2 separate regions of the Homo sapiens genome follow, and region 2 is linked to region 1. Evidence: fine-mapped QTL for protein levels in blood plasma. A gene starts in region 1. The other region holds a variant in brackets. All regions are shown on one strand. Distances are between the middles of the regions. Region 1 holds the start of MAP2 (microtubule associated protein 2). Region 2 has its middle 120 kb from the start of MAP2.

What was found. A credible set is the group of variants that fine-mapping cannot tell apart. PIP is the chance, under the fine-mapping model, that this variant and not a neighbour inherited with it causes the effect. Protein levels are from antibody-based Olink assays in UK Biobank. Linkage for the fine-mapping came from a reference panel and not from the study's own genotypes, which makes the PIPs less certain.
Region 2: its variant is the best candidate, but not a certain one, in a credible set for the plasma level of the MAP2 protein (UK Biobank, PIP 0.79).

Annotation. Positions count from the first base shown.
Region 1 is chr2:209,407,941-209,424,499 of GRCh38, reverse strand. MAP2 (microtubule associated protein 2) reads right to left here and starts at 453. Exons shown (of 16, transcript NM_001375505.1): 1 at 224-453. RefSeq lists a silencer at 383-772.
Region 2 is chr2:209,294,084-209,310,642 of GRCh38, reverse strand. No RefSeq gene overlaps it. Among named protein-coding and RNA genes, the nearest start is that of MAP2, 120 kb to the left of the region's middle. RefSeq lists enhancers at 4,415-5,413, 5,414-6,413, 10,415-11,074, 11,075-11,734. The variant A/G (reference allele first, on the strand shown) is at 8,565.

The DNA.
Region 1 (16,559 bases):
ACCAGTAGCGTCCGGCCCCCTGCTCCGCAGTGACACCTGGAGAGGACAGGCCCGAATCTTCCGCCAGGTGCACGGCTGGCCACTCGACCAACTACCAGACTGCCTGCTGCGAGTCCCAGAGGACGAGACACAACCCCTCCCCATTCCTATCTCTTTCTACTCAGAGACCGAGGCAAAAGGAGAGGCGCCCTACATAGAGCCAGAGGTGGGGACGGTCTCTTACCTGGGCGCAGAAACTGGATGCACCCGCGGTCGCGACTGCCACCGCTCACGGACTTAGCGCCCTCCGGAGAAAAAGGAGAGGGGTAGAAGGGTTAGGGGAAGAAGGGGAGGGGGGGGAAAAAGAAGGAGAAGGAAGAGAAAGAAGCGGAAGGGAAGTAAAGGAAGAGAGGATGCTGCTGCTGCTGCTGCTGCTGCCCAGAGCCCGCGCAGCCCGAGCGCCCGCCCCAGACTGAGAGCGGCGCCCCCAGCCGGCTCCCAGCGCAGCAGCTCCGCCTCGGCCCCTCCTCCCCGCCCCGCGCAGGTCCCGCCCCGCGCAGGTCCCGCCAGACTCCGCGAGCCCGTGGGCGGCCGCGGCGGGGCTGGCGCTGCCACCGCCGCAGTGTCCGGGAGGGGGAGCACGACCGCTTCGCCTTCTGCCGCAGCCGCCGGCCGCCAGGCGGGGACCGCGAGGTGGGAGCCTCGGAGAGCCCCGCCCAGCCGCTGGCCCGGGCCTTCTCCAGAGCCCTGGTCCCCTCCCGCGACAAAGTGAGGCCAGTGCCCGGGCGGCGGGACAGGCGGGCCTTCCTCACTGGCGTCCTTGGAAAATCGGGGGCAACAGCTTTAGTCTCTCGGGAGCAACCTCCGCAGACCCCCTGCTTCCCTCCCCTGTGTCGCTATGAGGCGGGGTTGCCAGTGGCACCTCACCAGGAAAGCTCACTGGCCTCGCCTCACAAACCCAACCACAGGTGCATCCAGAAAAGACAAAGGAATGTGGGGCGCTTGAGAACATAGAACAACTCTTGTCAGCACTAAAGGAGCAATGGCTGAGGGAGTAGAGAATTCTAGACCCAGCTCTGTCACGAATTAGATTCATTCATTTATTGAGTCAACGAATGTTTATTGACACCTACTATGTGTCAGGCACTCTTCTAAGCATTAGAAACATCAGTGACAGACCTTTCCCACAACCCTAATAAGAAAGATCCCCTCCCTTTATAGTTATTACATTCTAGATAGCCAGACGTATGCTCTAGAGACAGTTCACTTAATCTAACTCTCAGTGTATTCATGTGTCATATGAGAACTAAAAATGACAGCCCAATTCTCTTATGCTTAAAAAGATAATGAATATGAAGGATCTTTGAAGAATGATACAAATACAATGAATTAGAAAGCACGGAAAGTGTTGACCTTGAAATATCACCCTTAAAAAAATTGCCTCTTAAATGCTTTTGAAAGTGAAATGACCACCTGAGAAAACAAATGATTCTTTACCATTCGTACTAAGGAGTATGAATCTTCATAATCAGAGAGCAGCATTTTATTGTAAGTAAGAAAAGTAAGATGCAACTTAGAATTACTTCGAGTGTCTATATCAAGTACTGACAAGGTGTTTTTAAGGTCAGCCAACATACTGAGGTGTGGCTTGTACAGTCTTCACAGTGCTGATGAAACAGCAGCCATAATGTGGTTCTGTCACTTAAATTAACCACAGAATCTTAGAACCTAGAACATTAGAGTTGATGTTTTAGGCAGCTGGTCTAATTTCCTCCATTTTCAGATGGAAAGAGACCCAATGGTGGGAGCCTGCAAGGATTAGAAACCATCACAGAGGAAGCTGTGAAAGCCTGCCCTCCCCAGTCACACCCAGTGCTCTGTGTCCTGCCTCCCCCGCTCTGCTTCATACCATGTGCCAGTGACGCTTGCAGTGAGTTTGGAAGTATCAAGGCACACCCAGGAGCTGGGAGGTTGGAGGAGTTGATGCTCCTCCTCGGAAGATGGCCTTACTGAGAAGGAGGTCTTAGGAGACTAGGAAATCATAGACAGTATGTGGATGGGAGGAAGGAGTAGGCATGCTACCAGAGTGTTAGCAGCTGACATTCATGACCAGGCATGCAGGCGCAGGTGCTCAATGAGAGTAATTTTCCAGGGCCAGGAGCGGTGGCTCACACCTGTAATCCCAGCAGCTCAGGAGGGAGTATCGCTTGAAGCCAGAAGTTTGAGGGTGCAGTGAGTTATGATTACACCACTGCACTCCAGCCTGGGTGACAGAGTGAGACCCTGTCTCTAAAAAACAGCAATAAAAAAGACATTATTTCTCTGATAGTTTAAAGTACAGTGTTCCTCAGCACTTTTTGTTTTTGTTTGTTTGTTTGTTTGTTTGTTTTTTCCTCCACTTTAAGATTAGCTGAGGCAGCCAAACTCTAATGGCTTTTCTCTTTGGGGAACCTGGTCCTTATATGGGAGATTGCCTCCTCTCGACACACATCTTAGAGTTCTTTCAGAAAAATAGCATCTATATGTTGTAATTCAATAGAGAGAATTTAATATGGGGAACAAATTACAAAGGATTCAAATGACTAAAAAGCCAACTAGGGGATGATGAGGCAACACGATGATAGTTACTAGCAGGAAAGTACTACCACTCTCAGGCTGGGGAGTGCTAGAGAGGAGGCTTTACCAGGAATGAGGAGCACAAGCTACATTAAAGGAACTGAGACCACAGTGGAGATGCTTACTGGGAGACAGATAATGCTGGAGGGTCCTCCAAAAGCTGAGAGTGAAAAGAAATATTGTGGCCCTCCTTTAACCTGTATTTCAAAACCCTGTCATTGGGTGAACCTAGAAGAAAGTCAGTTGACAAAGCAGCCTAAGAAATACAGTTTGCAGGAGTCAGTGCCCTGGGATGTCAAACAACTTTAGGAGGGGACTCCATATGTTTAGGCTTCTGGTTTAAGGAGGGATCTTTGTGTTGAAGTGAACTTTTTTTTTTCCCTCAGCAAAGCATCCCTTCCTTAGAGTAATGATCCTTTTCATATGATTCCCCATATGCTAGTAAAATGTGTGCCTCTCTTCTCTTTCTCAGAGGTGGACATGTGACCCTGGCTAACTCTATAGTAGAACCTGTTCTCCTAATGTATAGTGATTGATACAGGGTGGTCATATGTCCCAAATATTTCCAATCAGGCTTTTTTCCATGAGATGTGTCATATGAACAATAGTGAATCGGATGGTATAGGTATAGAGTTGTCAGTGACTGTATTTCCTTCCATGCAGAAAAGCAATGCTGAGAGATGGAGAAAGAACACTTGAAAGACTCCATGGATCCTGCTACGTCTCAAGGTAGAAATGCCATTTTTCAAGCCAATAGATTTTTGTTTCTTTTCTAAGCTTGCTGTAGTTGGATTCCTGTCATTTTCAACTGAAGAAGCCTTGACTAATACAGTGCTGGACTCCAAAAAGTAAACCACAGATAGAAAGAGCCTGCCAATATTGATTTCCACAATTACTTGTCTTGTCTTCAGGCTAAATTCTTGATTTGTATTTATTTGGCCCGGAGGATTACGTACATAAACAACCATACCCTTTTCTCAGGGACAGGACTTCTGATAGTTTCTCAGTCAGAAAACCATCAGAATAAATGTATTTCTACTGATTAGAGAAAGGTCTACTGGTATATAGGAAGTAATGAAACCTTCTCCCCAGAGAGTCAAGGAGTAGGTGAGCCTTTGAGGAGGTTGTACTGCATAGTGTTAAGAGCACCAGACTTCAAGTCAGATCTGAGGGCCCATATTTGCTGTTCCCTGCTTGTGTGACCTTGGGTACATCTCTCTACCATTTTGAACCTCAATATTTTTATTAGCAAATGAGGAGACTCAACCACATGCCACCTAAGGTCACTTTAGTTTTATAAAGCTATGAGAAATTATAGCTCAGCTGAGGATTTGCTTATTAAGTTGATGAACATTAATTAAGTGGCCCCTAGAGAAACAATGAGCAAGGTTCATACATACACAAACAATGCTGATACAATGTGCAGCCCATCATAGAAAAGATGTGGATGCAAGATGCAGGTATGACACTGAAGAGCAGACACACATAAGTCTTTTACCTTCTATGTGTGAAATGGGCTTTTTGTGTTTTGTTTTTAATTTCTTGACCTTTTCTCTATGGATGACTAGAGGCACATCTATCAAAATTTCTATCATGTTTCACAAGTTTTGACCATTGCAATGGCTTTAAAATTTAAAAATGAGCTTTGTAGTATGGTCTCCCATTTCCAATTCTATGCCTAGTTCATTGAACAGGTGGTGAAATTACCATTGACTTCTTCTGGACCATAAATGTATCATTCTGTTCAAAAATTTTGTTGAGGTATAATTTACATTCAGTTAAAAGCACAGATCAGAAATGTTCAATCTACACCTTCAGCCCCAACCCATAGAGGTAACTACACTTTTGATTATGTTTCTCTGTGGCTTCACTTTGCATATTCTTGGAATTCCTATAAAAGGATTCAGACAATATATATTATTCTACATCTGGCTTCTTTTGCACACATATTACTTTTGAGATGTATTCTTTATTTTGTAAGTTATCTGCAGTTTATTCCTTTTTATTGTTCAGTAGTATTTTATTGTATGGATATACCATATTTTGTATATCCATTTTCTAATTAGTGGACATTTGGGGTTATTTTCAGTTTCTGCTTGTTAGTAATAAGGTTGTTATGAACTTTTATATAAGATTTTTTGTGGATATGTTGTTGTTTCTTTTAGTCATATACCCAAGAGCGAAATTTCTGGGTCGAATGGTAGATATATGCTTGACATTTTTTTTTTTTTTTTTTTTGAGACGGAGTCTCGCTCTGTCGCCCAGGCCGGACTGCGGACTGCAGTGGCTCAATCTCGGCTCACTGCAAGCTCCGCTTCCCGGGTTCACGCCATTCTCCTGCCTCAGCCTCCCGAGTAGCTGGGACTACAGGCGCCCGCCACCGCGCCCGGCTAATTTTTTGTATTTTTAGTAGAGACGGGGTTTCACCTTGTTAGCCAGGATGGTCTCTATCTCCTGACCTCATGATCCACCCGCCTCGGCCTCCCAAAGTGCTGGGATTACAATGCTTAACATTTTAAGAAACTATTGAAGTATAAGTTTTCAGTACTGCTGAGTAGACTTTTACTAGACCTTACCATCCCCCAGATAACATCTCCTGTAGGGGTGAAACAACCAAAACCAGAAAGCACTGGAATGTAAACAAAACAGGCATATTTTAAAGGGGAATCAACGCTTGGAAGAAGGAATGGCACATTCAATGCCTTTTAACTTGAGAGAAGATTGCACACAGTATTGCCAGGGGCAAACAGTCATAGAAAAATTACAGTTTTCCTGAAATAGAGTATAGAGTTTGGGACAATGTCCTGAGATGGAAAGTGAAAATAGAAGACTGAAAAGAAGAGACACTGGAATAGTCCAAATTTCTAGGTATAATCTACGCACAAATCTCCACTTTATCCCTGAATCATGTGTATATGGAACAGATTCAATGCTTCCCAGTTAAAGATTAAAACAAACAAAAACAATAACCAAATACTGAGCTGAGGTTTGAGTTGCTACCCGAGTGACAAATGTTGCAATGTGAATCTAACCAAATTAAATGAGTAGTAAAACAAAAACTTCAACACTGGAGTGATATAATGAAATCCAGAGTCTTCACAACTTAACATCCAGGATACCACCGAAAGCTATTCAACATTCAAAGAACCAGGAAAATGTGGCCCAGTTTCAAGAAAAAAAGACAATCAACAGAAATTAATTTTTAGATGACCCAGATGTTGGAATTAATAGAAAAGTGTTAAAATCAGCTACTATAAATATACTCAATTAAGTAAAGGAAATATAAGTGAAAAAAATAGAGAATTTCAGTAGAAAAACTAAAATTATTGAGAAGAACCAAATTTCCTTGATGACCAATGATGCCAATATGTCTCTGTGTTCTTGTTGGTTATTCTTGCATCAGATTTTGTGTTGTGAAGTGTCTGTTCTAATATTTTGCTAATTTTTAATTGGGTTGTGTATCTTCCAATATACAAGGAATATATAAGGAATATATTTTGATAATATTTTCCTCCAATTTTTTGTTTGCATTTCATTTTCTAAATGTCATCTTTTGGAAGTGCGAACTCCTTTAATTTTGATAAAGCCCTATTTCCTCAATCAAATTTTCTTTTTATGCTTTGTGTTTTTTTTGGTCATATCTAAGAAATCTTTCATTTACTCCAGAGCTACTTTTTTTCTGTTCTCTTCTAGAAATTTGATAGTTTTAATTTCTATGATCTATTTCAAATTAGTAGATATGATATAAGGTATTACTGATTATTTTTTTCCGTATAGATATCAGTTGTTCCAGAATTATTTTGTGAAAAGACCATCCTTTCTTCATTGAATGACCATAACATCTTTGTCAGAAATCAATTGGTCATATATATATAGGTCTGTTCCTGAACTCTGCCATGTCATTGATTCTTATGACAATTTCACATTATTTTGATTACTCTAGCTTTATGGTAAATCTTATAATCAGACATGGCAAGTAATACAATCTTATTCTTCTTTTACAAATTTCTTTTGGCTCTTGTAGTCTTTTGCATTTCCATACAAATATTGATGTCAACTTGTCAATTTAAGTAAAAATTATGTTTTCTTTGGAATTTTCTCAGGTCTGTAGATCAATTTTGGCAGAATTGCTGTCTTAAAAATATTGAGTCTTCCAATCAATGAACATGGTATAGATCTCTATTTAATTAGATTTTTTGAAGTTTTTGAAAAATATATACATTATTAATAAGCTTTATTTCTTAAAGCAGTTTTACATTTAAAGAAAAACAGAACAGAAAGTACAGAGAGTTTCCATGCATTTCCTTTCCCCTGCCCATGGTTTCTCCTACTATTTGCATCTTGCATGGGTGACGTACCTTTGTTAAAATTGAGGAACCAATATTGAGGCATTATTATTAATTAAAGCTCACAATTTATATTATGGTTCACTCTTGGTATTGTACAGTTTTGTGGGTATTGCCAGATATATAGTGTCATGTGCCCATCATTGTGGTATTATACAAGATATTTTCACTGCCTTAAAAAATACACTGTACTCCATTTATTCCTCCCTACAGTCTTTCAATACCCCACAAATGTTATATAGTTGAAATTATGTGGTATATAGCTTTTCTTCTTTCATTTAACAGTAAATATTTAAGATTCCTCATACCCTTTCATGGCTTGATAGCTCATTTTATCACTAAATGTTATTCCATTGTATAAATGTCCCATAGTTTGTTTATCCATTCAGCTATTGAAGTACATTTTATTTGCTTCTAATTTTGGCAAGCACAAAGTTGCTGTAAACATTCATGTTCAGGTTTTTGTGCTGACATAAGTTTTCAACCCATTTGGGTAAATACCTGAAGCACAATTTCTGGATTGTAGGGTAGATTATGTTTAGCTTTGTAAGAAACTGCCAAACTGTCTTCCAAAGTGGCTGCACCTTTCCTCTGGTGATGAATTAAAATTCCTTTTGTTTCATGTCCTCAAGAGCATTTGCTGTTGTCAGTGTTTGAATTTTACCTGTTCTAGTAGGCATTAGTGGTATCTCGTTGTTTGAATTTGCAGTTTCCTAGTAACATATAATTTTGAGCATCACCTTATATGCTTATTTGCTGCCTGTATATGTTCCTTGGTATAGTAGTTATTCAAATATTTTACCCATTTTTTAAATTACATATTTTCTTATTGTTGAGTTTCAAGAGTTTCTTTATATTTTGTATTCAAGTCCTTTATCGAATATGTGTTTCACAAATGTTTTCTCCAAATCTGTGGCTTACCTTTTCATCTTCTTAATAGTGATATTCACAGAGAAGAGCTTTTTAATCTTAATGAAGTCCAATTTATTAATTTGTTTTTCATAGATTGTCTTTTAGTTTTGTATCTAAAAACTCATTACCAAGTACAAGGTCACAAGGATTTTCTCTTATGTTATCTATTAAAGTTTAATTGCTTTGTGTTTTACATTTAGGCCTATAATTAATTTTGAGTTAATTTTTGTGGAAGAGGTAAGATTAGCATCTAGATTCATTTTTTTGCTTTCACATGTCCAATTGTTTAAGCATCATTTGTTGAAAAAATTATCTTCTCTCCATTGTATTGCCTTTCTTTCTTTGTCAAAGATCAATTTACTATATTTGTGCAGGTCTATTTCTGCATTTTCTATTCTGTTCTATTGGTCTATTTGTCTGTTTTGGTTTGTTTGTTTTTGCCAGTACTGCACTGTCTTCATTACTATAGTTTTATAGTAAATATTAATATTGGATAGTGTCAGTCCTCTAACTTGTTCTTCTACTTACACATTGTGTTGGACATTCTGGTTCTCTTTTCCATATCACTGTAGGATAAGTTTGTAGATATCCACAAAGTAACTTGCTGAGATTTTGATTGAGATTGCATTTAATTTACATATCAAGTTGAGAAGAACTGAGATATTGACAATATTGAGCCTTCCCACATTCATTTATTTAGATCTTTGATTTCTTTCATCAGGGTTTTATAGTTATTCTCATATATATCTTGTACATAATTTGTTAATTTAAACCTAAATATTTCAGCTTTTTGGTGTTAATGTAAATGGTATTATGTTTTTAATTTTTAATTTCAATTGCCCATTGCTGGTGTATAATAATGCGATTGATTTTTGTATATTCACCTTGTTACCTGCAATCTTGCTATTATCTCTTAATAGTTCCAGAAGTTTTATTGTTGTTTGTTCATTCTTTGGAATTTTCTACATAGACGAACATGTTACCTGCAAATAAGGATAATTTTTTTCTACCTTTCTAATCTGTGAGTTTTAATTTACTTTTCTTGTCTTATTGCATTAGCTAGGACTTTTATTAAGATGTTAATAGGAGAGATGAGAAGGATATCCCTACCTTGTTTCCAGTCTTAGGGGGAAGTATCTAGTTTCTCTCTGTTAAATATAATGCTAGATGTAGGTTACTTGTAGTTGTTCTTTATCAGGTAGTGAAAATGTCTTTTTATTCCTAGTTTTCTAATGATAAAAATGAATGGAGGCTTGATTTTCTCAAATATTTTTCTACACTTATTGATGTGATCATATGATTTTAACTTTTTGACCTCTAGACCCTGCTTTTGCTGCATTCCACAAGTTTGATAGGTTATATTTTCATTTTATTTAGTTCAAAATATTACTTAATTTCTTCTCATACTTCTACTTTGGCTTATATATTAGGATAAATCATTGAGTTAGGTTTTCTCCTCATAATATAAGCATTAAAATGATACATTTTTCTGTAGGCACTGCATTATCTACATTTCCCAAATTTTGATATGCTGTGTTTTCATTATAATTTACTTCAAAATTTATTATTATTCCTTTGTGATTATTTAATTTGAATATACATGTACATTTGAAATACGCTAACTGTGATGGTTAATTTATGTGTCAACCTGACTGGGGTAAGGGATGCCCAGAATGCTAGAAAAAACATTTCTAATGTTTTTGATGTTTTAAATGTCTGTAAGAATATTTCCAAAAGAGACTACCATTTGAATTGATGAATTGAGTAAAGAAGATCACCTTCACCAAGGTGGATGGTCATTATCTAATACATTAAGGACCCGAATACACAAAAAGGTAGAGAAAGCACAAATTCACTTTCTCTTCTTCAGCAGGGACATTCACCTTGTTCTGCCTTCAAAGATACATGTTCTGGGACTTAAATCAGTGCCCCCTTTTGTGGTTCTTAAGCCTTTGTGCTCAACTGGAAATTACACCATCAGCTTTCCTGGTTTTCAGACCTTCAGACTGGGACTAAATTACAACACTTGCTTTCCTTGTTCTCCAGCTTGCAGATGACAGACCATGGGATTTTTTGGCCTCTGTGATCATATGAGCCAATTCCCATAATAAATAAATAAAATTTTATATATTTGTTTAGATTATATATTGGTTTAGAATATATATTCTATAATTTAAATTTAAATTATAAATTAAATTAAATTATAAATTTATATTATAATTATATATTTATATTATAAATTAAATATAAATTATAAATATATTTATTAAATTAAATTAAAATTTAAATTATAAATTTAATTCAATTGTAGCAGAAAGCATATTTCATATGATTTTTATTCTCTTATATGTATTGAGGCTTGTTTTATGGCCATAGGGTCTATCTTGACTAATATTCTATGTGATCCTAAAAATGTATATCAAAAGTTGACTTAAAATGGGTGAGATACCCAAATATAAGAGATAAAGTTTTAAAACTAGGAAAAAACATAGAAGAAAATATTTGTGATTCAAATTAGGCAAAAACTTCTTTGGTATGTCACCTAAAGGATTATCAAAAATGGAAAAAAATAGATATCTTTAATATTAAAAGCTTTTGCTCTCGAAAAGATTCCGTTCAGAAAAAAATTGGCAAGCCAAAAACTGGGAGTAAATACTTCCAAATCATTATGTCCTATAAAAGACTTGTATCCAGAAATTATAAAGAACTCTCAAACTTAATAATAAAGAGATAAACATCACATCCTACCCTTGCAAAAGGCAAAATATTTGAATAGACACTTTACCACAGAAGATATAGTAAAGGCTGTTAAGAACAAAAAAGGTGTTAATATCAGTAACCATTAGGAAAATGCAAATTCAAACCACAATGACATACCACAACATACACAATAGAAAGGCTACAAAAAAAAAAAAAAAGAGAGAGAGAGAGAGACAATATCAAGTACTGATATGGGTGGGAAGAAAACTGGAATTCTCATACATCACTGGTAAGAGTGTAAGATTGTACACCCACATCTTAGTCTGTTTTGTGCTACTGTAACAGAATTTCTGAGACTGGGTAATTTATAAAGAAGAAAGATTTATTGCTTACAGTTCCGGAGTCTGAGAAGTCCCAAGTGGAGAGGCTTGCATCTGGTGAGGGCCTTCCTGACACATCATTCTCTACCAGAAAGCAGAAGGGCAATATCACACATAGGGGTTGGGGTGGAGGGTGAGGTGCTGAACTCTTTTTTCATCAGGAACCCACCCTCTTGATAATTAACCCACTCCTGCAATAACAGCATTAATTCATTCATGAGGGCAAAACCTTCATGAGCTAATGACCTCTTAAAGGTCCGACCTCTCTGCACTGTTGCATTGGAGATTAAGTTCCCAACACATGAACTTAAGGGGCCATACTCAAGACATAGCGATCTACTCTAGGAAGCAGTTAGTAAGCTTCTTAAAAATTTAAACATGCACTTGCCATATGACCTAAGTATTCTACTCCCAGCCATCTACCCAAAATAAATGAAAACATATGTCTACATCAAGTTGTTCATCTCAATGTTCATAGCAGCACAATTCGTAATAGCTGAAAATAGGAATTTATCAAAATGCCCATGAAGTAGTGAATGAATAAATAATTTGTGATATATTTCTACACTAGAATAATGCACACAATTTAAGGGACAGAATACTGATACATGCAACAAGTGGGATAAAATTCCAAGAGATTTTACTAAGTTAGAGAAATCAGATGCAAAAGACTACTTACTACATGAATTCATTCGTATGAAATTTAAAGAGGCTAAACTGTTGAAACAAAATGGATATCACTGGTTGCCTGAGGCCTAAGAGTGTGAGCAACAATTCACTATAAGCCTCATAAGAGAACTTATTGTGGTCATCCTAGTGTTCTAAGACCATATTATTGTTATGGGGGCACAATCACCTAAACCTAGTAAAATGCGTCAAACTATACACTAACAATAGGTGAATTTTATGGTGTGTAAATTATATCCCAATAAATCTGTAAAGAAACAATATGTACCTACTGCTGTTGAGTGTTTAAAACTGCCAGTTGTATAAATTTGCTTAATATTGTTTGTATCAATATTCTTACATATTTTCTTTTTATTCCAGCCCAACCCCTGTGCTTTATTCCATTTATAAGTGGAGGCAAGAGTGTTGAAATATCCGACCAAAATTGTAGATTTGTCATTTTTCTTTTCCATTCTATTAGATTTTCCATCATGCATTTTGAACCTCCAAAATAATATATATATGCAAGTAGGATTTTCTGTCTTCTTGCTGAATTGTTCCCTGTAAAATGGTTACTATCCCTCCTTTCCAGGTAATATTGCTTTTCTGAAGTTTACTTTGTGTAATATTAATAAAATAATTTCAGATTTCTTTTGGTTAAGATTGACATAGCTTATCTTTTTCATGTTTTACTTTTTAAATTTTGTTATAATTCAGATATCACAAAATTCACTCTTATAAAGAGTACAATCCAGTGAGGTTTAGCATATTTACAGTGGTACAACCATTGCCACGAATTTCCACATTTTTATCACCACAAAATGAAACTCTACAACCATTAGCAGTCCACTTTCCATTCTTCCTTCTCCTCAGTCTCTATGGATTGGCTTATTTTGGACATGTCATATCAATGGAAGCATACACCATGCAGCGCTTTATGACTGACTTCTTTTACTTGGCATAATATTTTCAAGGCGCATTCATGTTGTAGCAAGCATAAGTACTTCATTCCTTTTTTATGACTCAGTCGTGTTCTTTTGCATGGCCATAACACTTCTGTTTATCTGTTGATAAAGAGTTGATGCACATTTGGGTGGTTTCCACTTTTGGGCTATTGTGAATTGTGCTGCTAAGCACAGTACTATACAAGTAGTTTTATGGACATTCTCAATTCTTTTGTGTGTATACCTAGGCATGATATTGCTGGGTTATATTTTAATTATATTTTTAACAATTTGAGTAATTGCTAAAACTTTTCCCAAAACAGATACACCATTTTACATTTCCATAAGCAATGCATGAAGGTGTCAATTTCTCCACATTCTCATCAACACTTGTTATTGTCTTGTTTGATCATAGCTATTCTAGTAAGTGGGAAGTGGTATATTATTGTGATTTGGGTTTGTATATTCCTAATGACTAATAATGACTAATAATGTTGAGCATGTCTTCATGTGCTTATTGGCCACTTATATATTTTATGTGAAAAATTGTCTATCCTTTGCCTATTTAAAAAATTAGATTATCTATAGTTTTATCGTTAGTGTTCTTTACACATTTTGGATACTAATCCTTTATCAGACATATGATTTGCAAATATTTTCTCTGATTCTATGAATTCCCTTTTTCACTTTCTTGATTCTCTCCGTTATAACAAAAGTTTTCAATTTTTATAAAGTCCAATTAATTCATTTTTTTCTTTGATTGCTTGTACTTTTGATGTTATTTCTAAAATAATATTGCTTAATTTAAGGTCATGAAGATGTATACCTTTTTTCTTCTAGGAGTTTTATAGTTTGTACATTTAGGTGCTTGGTCCGTTTTGAGTTACTTTTTATAAGATATGAGATACGAGTCCAACTTCATCTTTTGCATGTGGATAACCAGTTGTCCCACCAACATTTGTTGAAGACGACTCTTTCCCCTATTGATTTGTCATGGCATACTCTTTAAAATCAGTTGACCAAAACTGTGAGGGTTTATTTCTGGACTCTCATTTCTATTCCATTGAGCTATGTGTCTATTTTTATAGGAGCAGCACACTGTTTTAATTACTGTAATTTTGGAGCAACTTTTAGAATTAGGAAGTGTGAGTCCTCCAACTTTGTTCTTTTTCTAGGCTATTCTGGCCACTTTAAGTTCCTTGCATTTCCATATGAATTCTAGGATCAGCTAGTCAATTTCTGTGACAATAACACAAAAAGGAAGTTGCAACTTTGATAAAGATTGCATTGAATCTATAGATCGGTTTGGGGGCATTGCTATTTTAACAATTAAATCTTCTAATCCATAAACACATGGTGTCTTTCCATTTATTTAGGTTTTTATTAATTTTTTCCATGTTTTCAGTATACAAATCTTATACTTCTTTATGCTTCTTTTGTTAAATTTATTCCTAAGTATTTTATTCTTTTTGATGCTATAGTAAAAGGATCAGTTTTCTTAATTTTATTTCTGGATTGTTTTTTGATAATTTATAGAAATTATCAACTTGATTGATCTTGTATTCTGCAAACTGGCTGAACTCATTTATAAGCTTCGATAGGTTTTTAAAAATACTTAGTATTTTCTACATTCAAAATCATGTCAGCAACTGGATATAAGTTTACTTCTTCCTATTTAATATGGAAGTCTTTATTATTTTATTTCTTGCCTAATTGCCCTGACTACAAATTTTCAGTACAATGTTGAATAGAAGCAGTGAGAGCGTACATACTTTTCTTGTTCCTGATCTTAAAAGTAAATACTTCAGTTATTCATCAGTAAGAATGATGTTAGCTGTGGGTTTTTCAAGAATATTCCTTATCAGTTGAGGAAGCTTCCTTCTATCCTGGTTTGTTAAGCATTTTTATCATAAAAGGGTGTTGAATTTTGATGCAGAAAATGCCTTTTCTGCATCAATTGAGATGATTATATGGCTTCTGTCCTTATTTTATTAAATTAGTTTATTATAATTGATTGATCCTCATATTGAACCAACTTTGCATTCCTGATGATTAATAAAACTTAGTTATCTGTTATTGGATTTGGATTGTTTGTTGAGGATTTTAATTTTATATTTATATTTCTAGTTTTATTAATTTTGAAATACAAAGTTTCTCTCTTGGAAAATTTAAAAATTTTTAAATTTTAAATTGATAAGTAAAATGTATATATTTTTGGTGTATAACATAATATTCTGATATACATATACATTGTAGAATGGCTAAATCAAGCTGATTAATATATGCACTATCTCACATACTTACTATTTTTTGGTATTGAAAACAGCTATATGTACTGTTGTAGCAATTTTCTAGTACACAGTACATCGTTATCAAACAATTTTTATCATCAATTTTGCCAATATCTGCCTTTTGTTTGAAGTGTTTAATCCATTTACATGTATTATAATTACTGGTAAGGTAGGGTCTATATCTACATGGTGCTATTTTTTTCTATATATCACGTTTTTTTGTTACTCTATTGTTCTGTTACTGACTTCTTTTTTGTTAAGTAGATATTTTATAGTTTACTATTTCTTTTTAGTTTGTTTGTTTTCAGACAGAATCTTGCTCTGTCGCCCAGGCTGGAGTGTGTTGGTGCAATCATGGCTCACTGCATCCTCAAACACTGGGCTCAAGTTATCATCCTTCCTTAGCCTCCCAAGCAGCTGGGACTACAGGTGCCCACCACCATGCCTGGTTATTTATTATTATTTTTTTTAGAAATGAGGGTCTCTCTATGTTGTCCAGGCTGGTCTTCAACTCCTGGGTTCAAGTGTTCCTTCCACTTCAGCCTTCCAAAGTGTTGAGATTACAGGCATGTGCCACTGTCCTTGGCCTGTGTGACATTTTTTATAGTCATTTCTTTTAGTATATTTGTCCCTTAATTTTTACTGGGTGCCAGTACAATAGTATTATAATCAACATCTGAGTTTATAGAAGTATAGCTCATATTAATACCACTTTAAGTTCAACAGTATAGTAAAATTTTGTTTCCGTATAATACCATTTTGTACTCCCTCGTTTGTTCTATTAGTGCTGTTCAGATTACATCTTTATAGATTGTATTCCCATCAACATGATTTATAATTACTGCTTTTGAAGTTCTTTTCAAATTAGAAAGGAGAGCAAAGAGTTACAGACAAAAAAATACATTTGTACTGTCCTTTATATTTACCTACGTAGTTACCTAATCCAATATTCTTGTATTTCAGGTCTACAGGTAACAAATTTTCTCAGAAATTTATTGTCTACATTTTTACTTTGCCTTTTATTTTAAATTACAATTTCATTGGTAATAACTTTTAAGATGACAGTTTCCTTTTTCTTTCAGCACTTTAATGATATATTTCCATTGTCTTCAGGCCTACATATTTTCTGATGAGAAGACTGCAGTCACTATTGTTTCCTCAATGCAATGTGTAATTTTTTTAATGGCTGCTTTTATAATTTTTCTTTATCAGTTATTTAATTATGATATTTCTTAGTATGCAGTTTATGTGTTTGTGTGTTCTGTGATATTTATCCTCCTTTGGGGTTTATGATCTTGATTCTTTGCATTTGTAATTTTCAGTAAACTTCAAAAATTTCTATCCATTACTTCTTTAATATTTAATTAATGTTTATATGGTATATAAAATATTAAGATACATGGCTATTATACTGCTTATTCATTTATCGTATGTCACTGAATGTTTCATATGTCACTGAGATGCTATTCAATAATCTTTTCAATCTTTTCCTTTCTGTATTTATGTTTTGAAAAAGTCTATTATGTCATTAGATTCACAATTTTTTCTTATGATTTAATCTGCATTTAGTCTCCAACAGTTAAGTTTTCATTTTGCATATGTCAAGAAGTTTCATTGTTTTTGACTAATTTCTCTCTTCATTAAATACTTAAATATTCACATACTGGCTGTTTAAAGATCTTTTTGCTGGTTGTATTTTCTATGTCATTTCCACTTATTTTTTCT
Region 2 (16,559 bases), 110 kb after region 1:
CTGTGTTACCATATCATCAGACATTTTGAACATCTTCCATTTTATGTTTGATCTCTCATCTTGACTGCTTTCTGAGCAAAACTGCTGCACAGTTGAGAATCTCTTCCTTCTTAAAACACTATCTTCACTTGGTTCAATGAAATACAACAAGCCTTTCTTGATTCTCCTTCCATCCCCTTGACAGCTACTTCTGAGTCTTTGTTGGTAACTTCTCTTGTAATTGACAAATTTTGATTATTGTAAGGACTAAGTAGTAGGCCCTTCTTTTTTTTTTTTCTTTCTATACCAGGAAACCCAAACTCAACAACTTTCAGGTCCTAGGCATGTAGTATAAAAGTATGAAGCAACCAGGAGATTATAGATAAAGTTGTCTGGACCGTGGCATTGAGGAAGTCAAGCTCTGCTTAGAGGTATTGAAAGATGTAAAGTCTCCCAGGCAATCAATAAATATCTGTACTTTTGTTTCAAACTATTAGTCTGTTTTACATTCTCTCCCTAGACAAAGGTCCACCACACACAAGTAATTACTAAGCCCTAATCATCTGCCTCCTAATTTTCTTATTTCTCTCTACTTCTTCCAACCCTCTCTTGCCACTTTAATCTAAGCTGTGATCTTTTTTCTCATGGCTAGCTGAAATTCCCTATTAGCTGATCCTCTCAAACTTGCCCACATTTCCAAGATTCACAGTAATTAATCTTCTCAAAGTCTGAATGAGAACAAATCATATCCTTGTTTAAGATCTCCTGCCAGCTAGACATTAACCTTAAATGAACGAACAAGGTTTCATCATGTCTTATGTGGTTCAAACGGCCCATATATATGTATGTGGGCTCATATATATATATATATATATATGCCATATGTATTTTTTTTTTAACTAATCCACCTTCATCTTTAGCCACTACTCTCCTAGTTATCTTCCTCTTGTGATGGGCTTCTCTCAGTTCTGTGAAGAACCCGAGCTCTTTTTGACCTTAGGGTTTTCCCACATACTATTTCCTTTTCCTGGAACTTTCTCCTAGGAGGTAACATGACCAGTTTCTCATCCTTCAGGTCTAGAAAGAGCTCCCAAAACTGCATTATGGGAATTTTTGAGCTTTATGGAAAGGATTCTTTCTTTCATTCCTGGAATTATGCAAAATAAGATCAATGATCTTCAGTGGCAAAATCATGGACACAATGGATCCTATCTGGCAGTGAGATACTTAACAATGATATCAAATTTCTCTAGAAACTGACACTAGAACTTTCAGCCAGATTAGTCAATGCTCTTGCTTAAGCTAATTTGTATTTACTGTTACTTGTAACCGAAAGAGTCCTGAGTGATATACCTGTTTAAATAACAAACAGCTAATAGGAGCAAACAACTAACCTTTTGCAGAAACCATTTTAATTTTCTTATTTGCAAAAAACATTTAAGCATGGTGTTCCAGAAAGATTATGGACACAGATACTTCTGTAATGTTGAATGCTTGTACAAAATATGTGGCCTTAAGAAAATTGCTAGAACCTACTGGCTTTTAGATTTCTCACTTGAAAAATGGGAATAATGGGAATTATAAAATGTATTTCACATGATTCCCTGGGTATTTACATGAAAGACATGCTAGAAAATCGTAACTTTAGCTCTTTAAGGATGAATTACAAGGAAGAATTATTAGCCCTTGGATTAGTGAGCTTGAGAAAAGCCATACATAGTAAGGAATCTATGTTAGTGAAATCTTAGGCATTATCATATAACTCATATGTGATCTTATTCACCAATGATTTTATTCACCAGCACACACTTAGAGCAAGGTAGTTCATTTGCACTATATTGTTAGTGAAATCTTAGACATTGTCACATAACTGTGAGAAGCATATTATCAAATAAGGGGGCTAACCAAAACTTGTTCATCACCAAATGGTTTGTAGTGTAAAAAACAGTTCTTCACAGCTTCTAGAAACACTACAGCAACCTACATCCTGACTGGTTGAAGGACTGAGGCTTGATAAGGGGAAGTCTCATGGTTTCAGGTTAAAGGCAAAAATGCCCAGTCATCTTATCTAATAGCCTTATCTAATAGTTTAAAGCAAGGTAGCTCACTATGTTTGTAGTAGGGAGCAAGGGAGACACTCAAGATGCAAGAGAGATGGTGGTTATTTGAGAGAGCAAAATGCTAGAGCAGTGTTTTATATAATTATTTAGCTTTGAGACCTGTTGCTCAAATAGATAGAATGTAAGAAGCAGGGGAAGACCAAGTAGCTCCGGGTAAAGAGAGACTTAGAAGCAAGGGCCCAGTCATGAGTATTCAGGAGCACTATTGGAGCCCTTGGAGGGAATAGAAAGGGATGGCAATACTCCTAAGCAAGAAGAAAGAATATTTATTTTCCTGAGACAAGATGAAAGAAAAAGAGGTGTGTGAGAAGACAGAGCAAATTAACAGGTAAGGTTCAATATATTCCCGCTGATACAATTTGGCTCTGTGTCCCCACCCAAATATCATCTCTAATGGTAATCCCCACATGTCAGGGGAGGGGCCTGGTGGGACGTGACTGGATCATGGGGGTGGATTTCCCCCTTGCTGTTCTTATGATAGTGAGTTCTCATGTGATCTGATAATTTGAAAGTGTGTGGCACATCCCCCACCCTCTTGCTCCACCCTTGTTTCCTCTTCACCTTCTGCCATTGACAGCAGTGGGTGAGGGACATCAGCTGCAGTGGGCGAGGCAAGGCCGGGACTGCACACTCTGCAGAGCCAGCAGGAGCTGGGAACTGGCGGGAGCCCTGCCCCCTTCTGCACTCCCAGGGTGCAGCTGCAGCTGTGCAGCTGGGGCTGCAGAACCAGGGCAGCCCTGTGCTCTCAGGGGCCTGGGAAGTCCTCCTTCCTCTGCAGGCTCAGAAATGCCTGCTCCTGCTGCCTGGCCTCTCCCCATTCCTGGTGCCCACTCTGATTTGGGAGCAAAGTTGAAGCTGAGCCCAGGCACTGTTGCAACCCGGCCAGGTGTGTGCATGCTCGGGGCAATGCCAACACAGCAGTCCCCTGTCACCTTGGTCCCCTCTGGACTTTGGGCACCAACGAGCATGGGAGGGAGGCCTAAGGGGGTTGAGGGTGGCTTGGCGTAGCCTTACAGGCACCCTTTAGCACGAGCAGCCTGGGTGCCGTGGATGGCGTGTTGATGGTGGCAGGCAGGCTTCTGGGTGGGAAGGGGTGAGTCCCTGATGAAACCCCACTTCCAAGCCTGGGGGCCAGCCTCCAGTTCTGGGTGGAGTCCCTGGCCTGGAGTGAGAACTTATGGTGCTTTCTCCAGGCCCTCCCAAGGCTATCTATGGACCAATCAGCATGCACTTCCTCCCTTTGGAACCCATGAAAACCCCAGACTCAGCCAGACTTGGACAGACTTGGGACTACCAGCTGTGGGAAGGAGCTACCCACTGCAGTCTCCTCTATGCAGAGAAACTGGACACTTGTCAGGATGACCTGCATGTGGAACTGTAGGTTTCCTGAGAACTGTTCTGCAGCTCAGTGAAGCTCCACTTCACCTTGCTCACCCTCCAGTTGTCCACATACCTAATTTTTTTTCTGGATGCGGGACAAGAACTCAGGACCCACTGAATGGTGGGACTAAAAGAGCTGTAACACAAACAGTACTAAAACATGCCGCCCTACTTGCCATGTTGCAGGTAATGATGTTACCGGGGGTCCTTGCTCCCAGAGCTCCCAAGATGGTGGTAGGCCACTTCCAAGATGGTGGCAAGCCTCGTGTTTTCTGACCTGGGGTTCATTGGCCTCACGGATTCCAAGGAATGGAATCTTAGGCCATGCGGTGAGTGTTATAGCTCTATTAGAAGTCGTGGGTCATGGAAGACAACCGTGGAACCCAGTGACTAGTGTTCAGCTCGATTAGAACGAACCCAGGCACTTAGCCATGCAGGAACAATGGCAAGCCTTTAGCCCGATCAGGAGCGGCAATGGGCGCCTCGCTGGATCAGGAGCACAGCGGACACCCTGCTGGATCCGGAGGGATGGAAGTCAGCGGCCGGTCTCCGACCGCAACAAACCAGCAGTGGTGGATGGCAAGAGAAAGCTCAGTTTGAGCCGTAACAAACACGGACCAGAAGAGTGCAGTTGCAAGATTTAATAGAGTGAAATAGAGTGAAAACAGAGCTCCCATACAAGGGGAGGGGACCCAAAGGGGGTTGCCGTTGCTGGCTTGAATGCCTGGGTTTATATCCCGATCCTTGTCCTTCCCGCTGTGCTCTCAGGCAATAGATGATTGGCTATTTCTTTACCTCCTGTTTTTGCCTAATTAGCATTTTAGTGAGCTCTCCGATTGGTTGGGTGTGAGCTAAGTTGCAAGCCCTGTGTTTAAAGGTGGATGCCGTCACCTTCCCAGCTAGGCTTAGGGATTCTTAGTCGGCCTAGGAAATCCAGCTAGTCCTGTCTCTCAATGGGAAAGAGAGAAGAGCTGCAGTTCTTTCAGGAGCCCAGACCTAGGGGCCCTCTGAGCCAGGGCAGTGACACCCTCTTTGGGGGTCTGCGGTTCCTGGTGTCTCCAAGGGTCCAGGTGCCCCGAGTTCCATGGTGCTCACAGTGAAATCTACTTGTGGTATGCCTGGTCCAGCCACAGCCTCACAAAGAGCCGGCACCCGTGCTGGTGCCTGGAGCTCCCCACCTCTCCGCAGCTGGCATGCCTGGCTGTGGGCAGTGGCCAGATCCCACGCTTGCTCACACACTCCTCACTGCTCTATGCCTGACTCTCCCTTGGCAGGTGTGGGATCCAGGCCAGTGGCACAGCTGAGCACAGCCTGCCAGGCCGAGTGGGTGGAATGAGCCCAGCAGGCCTGAGCAATACTTAGGCAAAGGTGCCACTGGCCACAGAATTTCCAGCTGGAAAAGCAACACCCCAAAGATTCCTTGACACCATGATTTAAGTTTCCTGAAGGCTTCCCGTCGTGCTTCCTGTTAAGCCTGCAGAACTGTGAGTCAACTAAACCTCTTTTCTTCATAAATTTCACAGTCTCAGGTGGTTCTTTACAGCAGCATAAGAATGAACTATTACACCCACTAAGGGTTATGTGAAATAAGGAGCAATCCTTAAACCAGATACTACCATTTGAAAGATGAATTTTAGGTATTTCCTTAGATACTTCACAGAAATATGTTTAGATGTGGGTCTTAGAATATTCTACAAAGGTGTCTGATCTGTAAGAACAGCCTTGAAGCTCTGAGAAATATCCTTTAGAAGGGGCTACATTACGTATGTTTTACATTCATTTTGGAGTCAGAAAGATTTTATTTGAATTCTGATTCAGTTCTTAGAGAATTATATAGCTTTGAGGAGGTTAATTAACATCAAATTGTTCTCACCTATGGAATGTGAATGTATAGTGATGCCTACCTCATGGAGATTTTGTAAGAATTCAGTCAGCCCATGCATGTAAAGAAGACAGTATGTTTCCTGCTGTGATCGTTGGATGCTGATGTTAGCATAATTGGCTTGGTCACAGCTAGAGCAGTACACAGGATTCTTTTTCCCCTTCAAGCTAAAGATTTAAATTTAAATATATTTAATTCAGATGAATAATTAAAAGGAAAGTATTGGCTCTGAAGATGAGAACCAGTTCTTGAAAATTACCCAAGAATTATATATACTTCATGGTACATATTAGCTATTCATCATTTTATGAAATAGTCATTTTTTAAAAACACATGATTGACATATCTTTCATGCGCGTCCGTGTGAAGAGACCACCAAACAGGCTTTGTGTGAGCAATAAAGCTTTTAATCACCTGGTGCAGGCGGGCTGAGTCCGAAAAGAGTCAGCAAAGGGAGATAAGGGTGGGGCCGTTTTATAGGATTTGGGTAGGTAAAGGAAAATTACAGTCAAAGGGGGTTTGTTCTCTGGTGGGCAGGAGTGGGGGTCGCAAGGTGCTCAGTGGGGGAGCTTTTTGAGCCAGGATGAGCCAGGAAAAGGACTTTCACAAGGTAATGTCATCAGTTAAGGCAAGGACCGGCCATTTACACTTCTTTTGTGGTGGAATGTCATCAGTTAAGGTGGGGCAGGGCATATTCACTTCTTTTGTGATTCTTTAGTTACTTCAGGCCATCTGGGCGTATACGTGCAGGTCACAGGGGATGCGACGGCTTGGCTTGGACTCAGAGGCCTGACATTCCTGCCTTCTTATTAAGAAAAATAAAACAAAATAGTGTTGAAGTGTTGGGGCGGCGAAAATTTTTGGGGGGTGGTATGGAGAGAGAGTGGACGATGTTTCTCAGGGCTGCTTCAAGCGGGATTAGGGGTGGTGTGGGAACCTAGAGTGGGACAGATTAAGCTGAAGGCAGATCTTGTGGTAAGGGGTGATATTGTGGGGTTGTTAGAAGAAACATTTGTTGTATAGAATGATTGGTGATGGCCTGGATACGGTTTTGTATGAACTGAAAAACTAAATGGAATAAGGAGAAAAACAGGTATAAAAAGTCTAAGAATTGGGAGGACCTAGGACATCTGATTAGAGAGTGCCTAAGGAGATTCAGCATAGTCCTGCCACCAAAGATTATTTAGTTACTTCAAGAGTTAAGAGTGGCAGTTTGGGGATAGCACGAGGAGATATCAGCTGTGATGGCTTGGATAAACAGTGTAAACTGGCAGTGTAAACAAGAGCAGGGCATGTATGAGTAGTTGAGAACAGAGAATAGGAGTATGACTAGACAGAAAATAGTAGGGATGACAAGTTTTTTTTGGGGGCACAGTCTAAGTTGGTCTGGTGTCTGGAATGAGACTGGGGCCTAATAAAAAGGAGCATCTATACAGGAGCTTAAATGGGCTGTACCTTGTAGCATTCCAAGGACAGGCCTGAATTCTGAGAAGGGAAAGTGATAAAAGTATTGTCCAGTCCTTTTTGGTGGCTGAGCTTGGTGAGGTGAGTTTTTAAAAGACCTTCAGTCCATTCTACCTTTCTTGAAGATGGAGGACCGTAAGGGATATAAAGGTTTCACTGAATACTAAGAGCCTGAAAAACTGCTTGGCTGATTTGACTAATAAAGGCTTATCTGTTATCAGACTGTATTGAGGTGGGAAGGCTAAACTGAGGAATTATGTCTGACAGAATGGAAGAAATGACTGCGGAGGCCTTCTCAGACCCTGTAGGAAAGGCCTTTACTTATTCAGTGAAAGTGTCTATTTAGCCTAAGAGGTATTTTAGTTTCCTGACCCGGGCATGTTGAGTAAAGCTAATTTGCCAGTCCTGGGTAGGGGCAAATCTTCGAGCTTGATGTGTAGGGAAGGGAGGGGGCCTGAATAATCCTTGAGGAGTAGTAGAATAGCAGATGGAACACTGAGAAGTTATTTCCTTGAGGATAGATTTCCACGATGGAAAGGAAATGAGAGGTTCTGGGAGGCGGGCTAGTGGCTTGTACTATAGCATAGCCTGCCTTTGCTGGTATGTGGCGATTAGGCCTGGTGGAACTGCCATCAATAAATCAAGCGTGATCAGGGTGAGGAACAGGAAAGAAGGAAATATGGGGAAATGGGGTGAATGTCAGGTGGATCAGAGAGATACAGTCGTGGGGGTCAGGTGTGGTATCAGGAATAATGTGGGAGGCCAGCTTGAAGTCCGGGCCAGGAACGATGGTAATTGTGGGACTTAACAAAGAGTGAGTACAGCTGAAGGAGCCAGGAGCAGAAAGTATATGCGTCAGGTATGAGGAAGAAAATAGATTTTGGAAGTTATGAGAAATGTAGAGAGTGAGTTGAGCATAGTTTGCAATTTTGAGGGCCTCTAAAAGTATTAAAGCAGCGGCAGCCGCTGCTTGCAGACATGAGGGCTAGGCTAAAACAGTAAGGTCAAGTTGTTTGGACAGAAAGGCTACAGGGTGCGGTCCTGGCTCTTGTGTAAGAATTCTGACCACACTAACCATGCCTAGGAAGGAAAGGAGTTGTTGTTTTGTAAGGGATTGAGGTTTGGGAGATTAATCGGACACGATCAGCAGGGAAAGCACGTGTGTTTTGAGAATTATGCCGAGATAGGTAACAATTGAGGAAGAAATTTGGGCTTGATTGAAGTAACGGGGGCTGTCTGTGAGCTTTGTGGCAGTACAGCCTAGGTAATTTGCTGAGCTTGATGGGTGTCAGGGTCAGTCCAAGAGAAAGCAAAGAGAGGCTGGGATTAAGGGTGCAAAGGAATAGTAAAGAAAGCATGTTTGAGATCCAGAACAGAATAATGGATTGTGGAGGGAGGTATTGAGGATAGGAGAGTATATGGGTTTGGCACCATAGCAAAACAATTTGGTTGCTAAGGCGCAGATCCTGAACTAACTTGTAAGGCTTGTCTGGTTTTAGGACAGGTAAAACGGGGGAATTGTAAGGAGAGTTTATAGGCTTTAAAAGGCCATGCTGTAGCAGGCGAGTGATAACAGGCTTTAATCTTTTTAAAGTGTGCTGTGGGATGGGATATTGTTGAGTGGGGTAAGGGTGATTAGGTTTTAATGAGATGGGAAGGGGTGCATGATTGGTCGCCAAGGAGGGAGTAGAGGTATCTTATACTTGTGGGTTAAGGTTGGGGGGATACAAGAGGAGGAC[A/G]CAAAGGAGGCTTTGGATTGGGAAGGAAGGCAGCAATGAGATGTAGCTATAATCCAGGAATAGTCAGGGAAGCAGATAATTTAGTTAAAGTGTCTCAGCCTAATAAGGGAACTGGGCAGGTGGGGATAACTAAAAAGGAGCGCTTTAAAGAGTATTGTCTAAGTTGGCACCAGAGTTGGGGAGTTTTAAGAGGTTTAGAAGCCTGGCCGTCAATACCCACAACAGTTATGGAGGCAAGGGAAACAGGCCCTTGAAAAGAAGGTAATGTGAAATGAGTAGCCTCCGTATTGATTAAGAAGGGGACAGGCTTACCTTCCACTGTGAGAGTTACCCAAAGCTTGCCGTCCATGATGGTCTAGGGCGCTTCCGAGGTGATCGGGCAGTGTCAGTCTTCAGCCGGTAAGCCAAGAAGGAGTCAGTCAGAGAGCCTTGGGCCAGAGTTCCAGCAGCTCTGGGAGTGGCTGCCAGGTGAGTTGAATAGTCCGATTTTCAGTGGGGTCCCACACAGATGGGACGCGGCTTAGGAGGAATCCCGGGCTGCGGGCATTCCTTGGCCCAGTGGCCAGATTTCCGGCATGTGTAGCAAGTTCCTGGGGGAGGAGGTTCTGGAGGAACACTTGGCTGCTGCGGTTCAGGCATTTGGAAGTCTTGTGTGCTGGAGATGTAGCTGGGGTTTGTCTCACAGTGGAGGCAAGGAATTGCAACTTTTTTCTGTTATTGCACACCTTGAAGGTGAGGTTAATTAAGTCCTGTTGTGGGGTTTGAGGGCCAGATTTCAGTTTTTGGAGTTTTATTTAATGTCGGGAGCAGATTGGGTAATAAAATGTATATTGAGAATAAGACGGCCTTTTGACCTTTTAGGGTCTAGGGCTGTAAAGTGTCTCAGGGTTGCTGCCAAACAAGTCATGAACTGGGCTGGATTTTTATATTTGATGAAAAAGACCCTAAACGCCATCTGATTTGGGATAAAGAAAAAGGAGCATTAACCTTGACTATGCCTTTAGCTCCAGCCACCTTTTTAAGAGTAAATTGCTGGTCAGGAGGGGGAGGCCTAGTCACGGAACGAAACTGTAAGCCGGAGCAGGTGTGAGGAGGGGAGGCGATTAAAAGATTATAGGGTGGAGGAGCGGAGGCTGAGGAAGAATTGGGACCTAGCTCGGCCTGTTGAGGAGGGGAGAGGTCAGATGGGTCTGTAGAAAAGGAAGATTAGAAAGACTCAATGACACTTGGGGTTGGTACTGAAGGGACAGGCGGGAGGGAAAGAAGGAAGATTTGGGACGAGTTGCACTGGGCACAGAGACTAGGAAGGGACTGATGTGTAAAAGAATGCCTGGACGTCAGGCACCTCAGACCATTTGCCCATTTTACGACAAGAATTATTTAGATCTTGTAGGATGGAAAAATTGAAAGTGCCGTTTTCTGGCTATTTGGAACTACTGTTGAGTTTGTATTGGGGTCAAGTGGCATTGCAGAAGAAAATAAGATGCTTAGATTTTAGGTCAGGTGAGAATTGAAGAGGTTTTAAGTTCTTAAGAATACAGGCTAAGGGAGAAGAAAGAGGAATGGAAGGTGGAAGCCTGCCCATAGTGAAGGAGGCAAGCCCAGAGAAAAGAGTAGAGACACGGAGAAGGGGTGGGGGTTTCTTCCCCTCCAGAAAAGCAGAGAAAGGGTTGGGACATGGAAATAAGGGATTGTGGCACAGAGATAAGAGGTTGGGGTGCGGAAATAAGCGATTGGGGGGTTCTTGCCCCCTAGGAAAGCGGGACTTGCCACTAAGGGTGAAGGAGAAGGGGTTGAGGGGTACTTGCCCCTGTCCCAGGAAAGCGGGACTTGCCGCTAAGGGTGAAGGACCAAGGCAGGCATCCCTGCATGGTCTGACACCCTTGAAACGTGAGTGTATAATCAGAGAGGCGTCCCTGCAATGATTAAACACCAAGGGAAGGCTGCCTTCCCAGTCCGTGACCGGTGCCGGAGTTTTGGGTTCATGGATAAAACATGTCCCTTTTGTCTCTACCAGAAAATGAAAGGAATTGAAATTAAGAGAAGGGAGAGACTGAAGTGTGGCACCAAGACTGAAAGGAGAAAGAGGTTGAGGGATAGTGAGGGAGGTTGGAGAAGAGAGTAAAAAGAGGCCACTTACCGGATTTGAAATTGGTGAGATGTTTCTTGAGCTGATCGGTCCGAGGACCTGAGGTCGTAGGTGGATCTTTCTCACGGAGCAAAGAGCAGGAGGACAGGGGATTGATCTCCCAAGGGAGGTCCCCCGATCCGAGTCACGGCACCAAATTTTATGCGCGTCCGTGTGAAGAGACCACCAAACAGGCTTTGTGTGAGCAATAAAGCTTTTAATCACCTGCGTGCAGGTGGGCTGAGTCCGAAAAGAGTCAGTGAAGGGAGATAAGGGTGGGGCTGTTTTATAGGATTTGGGTAGGTAAAGGAAAATTACAGTCAAAGGGGGTTTGTTCTCTGGCGGGTAGGAGTGGGGGTTGCAAGTTGCTCAGTGGGCAGGAGTGGGGGTCGCAAGGTGCTCAGTGGGGGAGCTTTTTGAGCCAGGATGAGCCAGGAAAAGGACTTTCACAAGGTAATGTCATCAGTTAAGGCAAGGACTGGCCATTTACACTTCTTTTGTGGTGGAATGTCATCAGTTAAGGTGGGGCAGGGCATATTCACTTCTTTTGTGATTCTTTAGTTACTTCAGGCCATCTGGGCGTATATGTGCAGGTCACAGGGGATGCGATGGCTTGGCTTGGGCTCAGAGGACTGACAATATCCTCCTCCCTTAAAAAAGAAACTAGCAAACATTTTCAGAGAATATTTTGCATAATGTAGGAAATCTAGTTAGCCCTGAGTTCGGTATACTTCTAAACGCTTTAGTTCTGAAGATGTACTTTACAGAACATATCATAAAATTCTTCCTGTGCTTATCTCCTCTTAGTAGTATGAAGAAAAGGGAAACAGTGGCACCCTAAAGTTGTGGAGAATTCTTAGCAGAATATTTCTATGATCACATGCCCTTGGAAAAGAAGTTAAAACCCAGTATTGAATATATCCAAGGTTAGGCATTGAGTGTGGAATTTTTTAAATAGGGAGGCCACACTAGAAGGATAATATGATTTCCCATGTTACAGAAAGTGGTTGAGTCATTAGTTCTTCTCTGCCTGGTTGTTAAGAATAAAGGAGGTTTAAAAGGCAAGCACCTACTTTTGCTGTAGCAACCTCAGGGCGTAGGAGCATTCAGAAAGCCTGCTTCTGGTAGGCATGACTGCAGTGGGAGCCATGTCAAGTAATGGAGTGAGGACCGAACACTCTCCAGGAGTAGGAGCTACTGTGGTGTAAAACCTTCTTATGCACAGTATAGTAAGGCTAAGTAAGGCCCATATGTGGTCCCCTAAAACAGCCTGTCAGAATCCAAGAAGTATCAGAAAAATCACAAATATCTGCAGCCATGTTCATTCTTACAGCTAAAGCAGTACACAGGATTTGATGTTAATTAACCTGCCCAAAATTTGATGTTAATTAACCTGCCCAAAGCTATATAATGCCCTTTTCTGGGGGGTGAAAATAGGGGAAAAGATCATTGGTGCCACATCTATAAGTTCCTTGTCCACAGAACGCCAGGCATTTCGTCCTCCTGTTTTCCTTTCTCTTTAAAAAACTGCTAGGTGTTTTTTAAACCAAGCTGAGGGTAGGAATTACTTGAATGAGGTAGTCTAGAGACTACTCTATATAATGTTTTGTTCAGCATAGTCAATAGATCTGAACCAGGAATTCTGAGTCATGGTCAAAGCTTGGAGTTCAGAAAATAAATTCTTATCTTTTGTCAGGAATATTTTCTAGAACCCCTGAGCTTCCAGTGAGATCATAGTTCCAAAGAACATACTAAATAAGAAAAATAGAAACATAAGATACAAAGCAGTGAAAACACCAAAGCCCATATTTATTTATTGAGCAGGAAACGTATCGTTCTAGAGTTGTCATTGTGTTACCTTTTACAAGCTTAATGTAATAATTTGACATACATGAAGTGTTTTTACTGAGATCCATTCATTATCCTTCCATTCTAGATGAGAAGGAAAGAAAAGTAAAAGAACTAAATTTCAAACTCACTGAAGTCTCTCTTAATTACAAAAGAAAGATTACATGAAAGCCAGGAGTATTTTTTTTTTTTCATTTTTGTCAAAGATGTGGTTACTGGATTGTTTGAACAGAGTATTACAAGATATTAAACCAAGTGAAATTCTGCCCATAGTGCACAAGCACTACAGGTTTTTGTTTGTTTGTTTGTTTTTGAGACAGAGTCTCACTCTGTTGCCCAGGCTGGGGTGCAGTGGCACCATCTTGGCTCACTGCAACCTCCACCTCCCAGGTTCAAGTGATTCTCCTGCCTCAGTCTCCCAAATAGCTGAGACTACAGGCATGTGCCACCACACCTGGAATTTTTTTCTTTCTTTCTTTTTTTTTTTTTTTTTTTTTGTATTTTTCTAGTAGAGACGGAGTTTCACCATGTGGGCCAGGCTGATCTCGAACTCCTGACCTCGGGTGATCCACCTGCTTCAGCCTCCCAAAGTGCTGGGATTACAGGTGTGAGCCATTGTCCCTGACCACTACAGGGTTTTTGTTGTTGTTGTTGTTTTGCTTGTTTGCTTGTTTTGCAATAAAGACACATTGAAAGTTGACATCAGATAAAAAGTATTTTTCAAAGTCATATTAGTTTGATGGGGATTCCTCTGCCATTCCTTCATCAGCATGTGCTATCCTGTTATTAAGAACCTCAACTTTAGTTTTGTAGAATTTATATTCATTGTATTCTTGTCCTAGATGATATGACTTCTGTCCAAATAAGAACTCTTATCTTTACTCAATTATCTAGACTATCTCAAAAGAATCAAGAGGTTTTTCCTTTTTAATGAGACCATTGAAGAAGTCAAGCCTTTGACATGCCTCCCACACGAATATATGTGTGTGTGTGTGTGTGTGTATGTATGTATGTTTTTCTCTCTAGTAATTTGATACTTTCATAAAAATTTTGAAAGACATTGAAAGATATTTCAAAATTCTATATATTTTACTGGGTTAACTGTTCATTTTCTAATTAGTAGAAAATCTTTAGTTTTAGCATACAGATTTAATTAAGAACCCATTAGGTCATTCATATTTAAATAGACTTGTTCCAATAACCCACATCTACTTTTTTTTTCCACTTACAGATTATGTTAATCAATTCTTTCATCTGATTGCCCCCTAAAAGGGAAAACAATTTTTTTACATGTTCAACCATATGGAGAGATTTTGAAAAGGATCTATATCTATTGATGGTTTTAAACTCATATTTTTGGCTGAAGTGAATAAAAAGAAACTAAAATGTTAATATAAATGTTTATCTTATAGTCATAACAAGTCCTTGAAAGATTCATTTGTTCTTTTCTTTCTGCCTTCTGTAGAACCAAAAAAGAAAAAAAAAACTAATACCTTTTCTTTACTCATCACAAGGTTCATGGCAGAAGCAGCTATAATGAAAATAGATGAACAAGAGAAAAACCTACAAATGTATTTAATGTAAATTTTACATGATACTGCAGCTTTCAGAAAAGGAGACCCTCCAAAATAGGGAAACCTGTGTATATTATGCTGAATTTGATGAATGGATAGTTGTGGAGAAAAATGATTAGAGGACAAAGGGTGTGATCTAATGGTAATAAACTAGGCAGAGGGGGAACTTAGCAAGGCATGTTTGCTCAGGTTCTTCTCAGCTTCTCTGTGTCTTTGATGATAAGGATATTTTATTTCCTTTGGGGAAAGGAAGAAGAACTCTGAAGTAAAGGCTTTACGGCCTGCTTTAGAGGAAGTTCAGAGAATTCTTTTATGGCTTGCTTCAGGAGAGAAGGGCAGGGTAAGGTGAGAGTGACGTTTCTGCTTCTGCTGCTTCCTCAAATGCCAAGGTGCCATACTTTGAGGTAGTGAGTCCTGAACCCTGTCACTTCATTATAGCCATGTTAATGTATTTTTATTTTATTCATTCATTAAAATGAATCTGATTTTACCTTCCTGACTTCTTTCAGTAACACATAAAACATATATAGTGAAGATGTTTCCAGGGATGTGGGTAGGGTTTGAGGAGAAAAGCTCAAGAAGCTTAGTGGATACAAAAGGGAAAGAAAGGAACAACTTTATTTTATTTTTTATTTTCATAAGTTTTTGGGGAACAGGTGGTATTTTGTTATGGAAGTTCTTTAGTGGTGATTTTGAGGCTTTGGTTCACCCAGCACCTGAGCAGTATACACTGAACCTAATTTATAGTCTTTTATCCCTCAACCCCATCCCACCTTTTCCCCCTGAGTCCCCAGTCCATTGTATCATTCTTATGCCTTTGAATCCTCATAGCTTAGCTCCCACTTATGAGTGAGAACCTATGATGTTTGGTTTTCCATTCCTGAGTTATTTCACTCAGCATAATAGTCTCCAAACCCATCCAGGTTTCTGCAAATGCCATTAATTCATTCATGTTTATGACTGAGTAGTATTCCGTGGTATATATATGGGGTATACATATATCACAGTTTCTTTATCCACTTGTTGATTGATGGACATTTGGGCTGGTTCCACATTTTTGCAATTGCGAATTGTGCTCCTGTAAACATGCATGTGCAAGTATCTTTTTCGTATAATGACCTCTTTTCCTCTGGATAGATACCCGGTAGTGGGATTGCTGGATCAAATAGTAGATCTACTTTTAGTTCTTTAAGTAATCTCCATAATTTTTCCGTGATGGTTGTACTGGTTTACATTCCCACCAGCAGTGTAGAAGTGTTCCCTTTTCACCACATCCACACCAACGTCTATTATTTTTTTGATTATGGCCATTCTTAGAGGGGTAAGTTGGTATCTCATTGTGGTTTTGATTTGCATTTCCCTGATCATTAGTGACGTTGAGGATTTTTTCATATGTTTGTTGGCTGTTTGTATATCTTCTTTTGAGAATTTTCTATTAATGCCCTTAGCCCACTATTTGATGGGATTGTATTTTTCTTGCTCATTTGTTTGAGTTTCTTGTAGATTCTGGGTATTAGTCCAGAAAGAAACAACTTTAAACAGTGCTGTGGTTTGACCGTCCCCTCCAAAACTCATGTTGAAATTTTATCTTAAATGTGGCCATATTGAGAGGTGGGGGCTTTAAGAGGTATTTACAACATGAGGTCTCTGTCCTTAAGAGTGGATTAATCCACTCATAGACCAATGTATTAATGGATCAATGGATTATTACAACAAGGGAATTTGTTGCTTTCTAGGAAGAGGAAGAGAGACCTGAGCTAGCATGCTAACATGCTCAGCCCCCTTGTCATGTGATGCCCTGTGCTGCCTCAGGAGTCTGCAGAGAGTCCCTACCAGCAAAAAGACTCTCACCAAATGTGGTCACTAGATCTTGGACTTCTCAGCCTCCATAAATTCCTTTTCTATATAAATTATCCAGTTTCAGGTATTCTGTTATAAGCAACAGAAAACAGACTAAGACAAGTAGTATTGCTGGGGACTGTGATTATGTTTCATGGAATTCAGGAGATAAAGATAATGAACTTGAATTATTGTGAGTTCATATTCAGTGCAATGGATCATATGTTTTTAACCAGAACTACACCATTCTTGGCTTTCTGCATAGGAAATGTGGTTACAGTTTTTCCACTACTGATAATGAAGTTGGATAGATACAGCCATACTCCTTTTTGATTTTCTGTTCACTAAGTAGTGTAAATAGTTTCCTAAAGCTAGAAATTAAAAACCAAGTCCATATGCTTCAATTAACATTTCAGATGATAAAAAATATATATAAATATAACTGAGCTTATGGATCTTAACTGATTTTAGGGGCTATTTGTTTTTTAAAAATCTCTGAAGCTCAAAGCTAACCTAATGTAGCTTATGAGAAGCATTTTCAAATCAATGGAAGCAGCTTCTTATCAATGGAAGTTATTTCTCTTGTAATGACACAAACTTGAATAG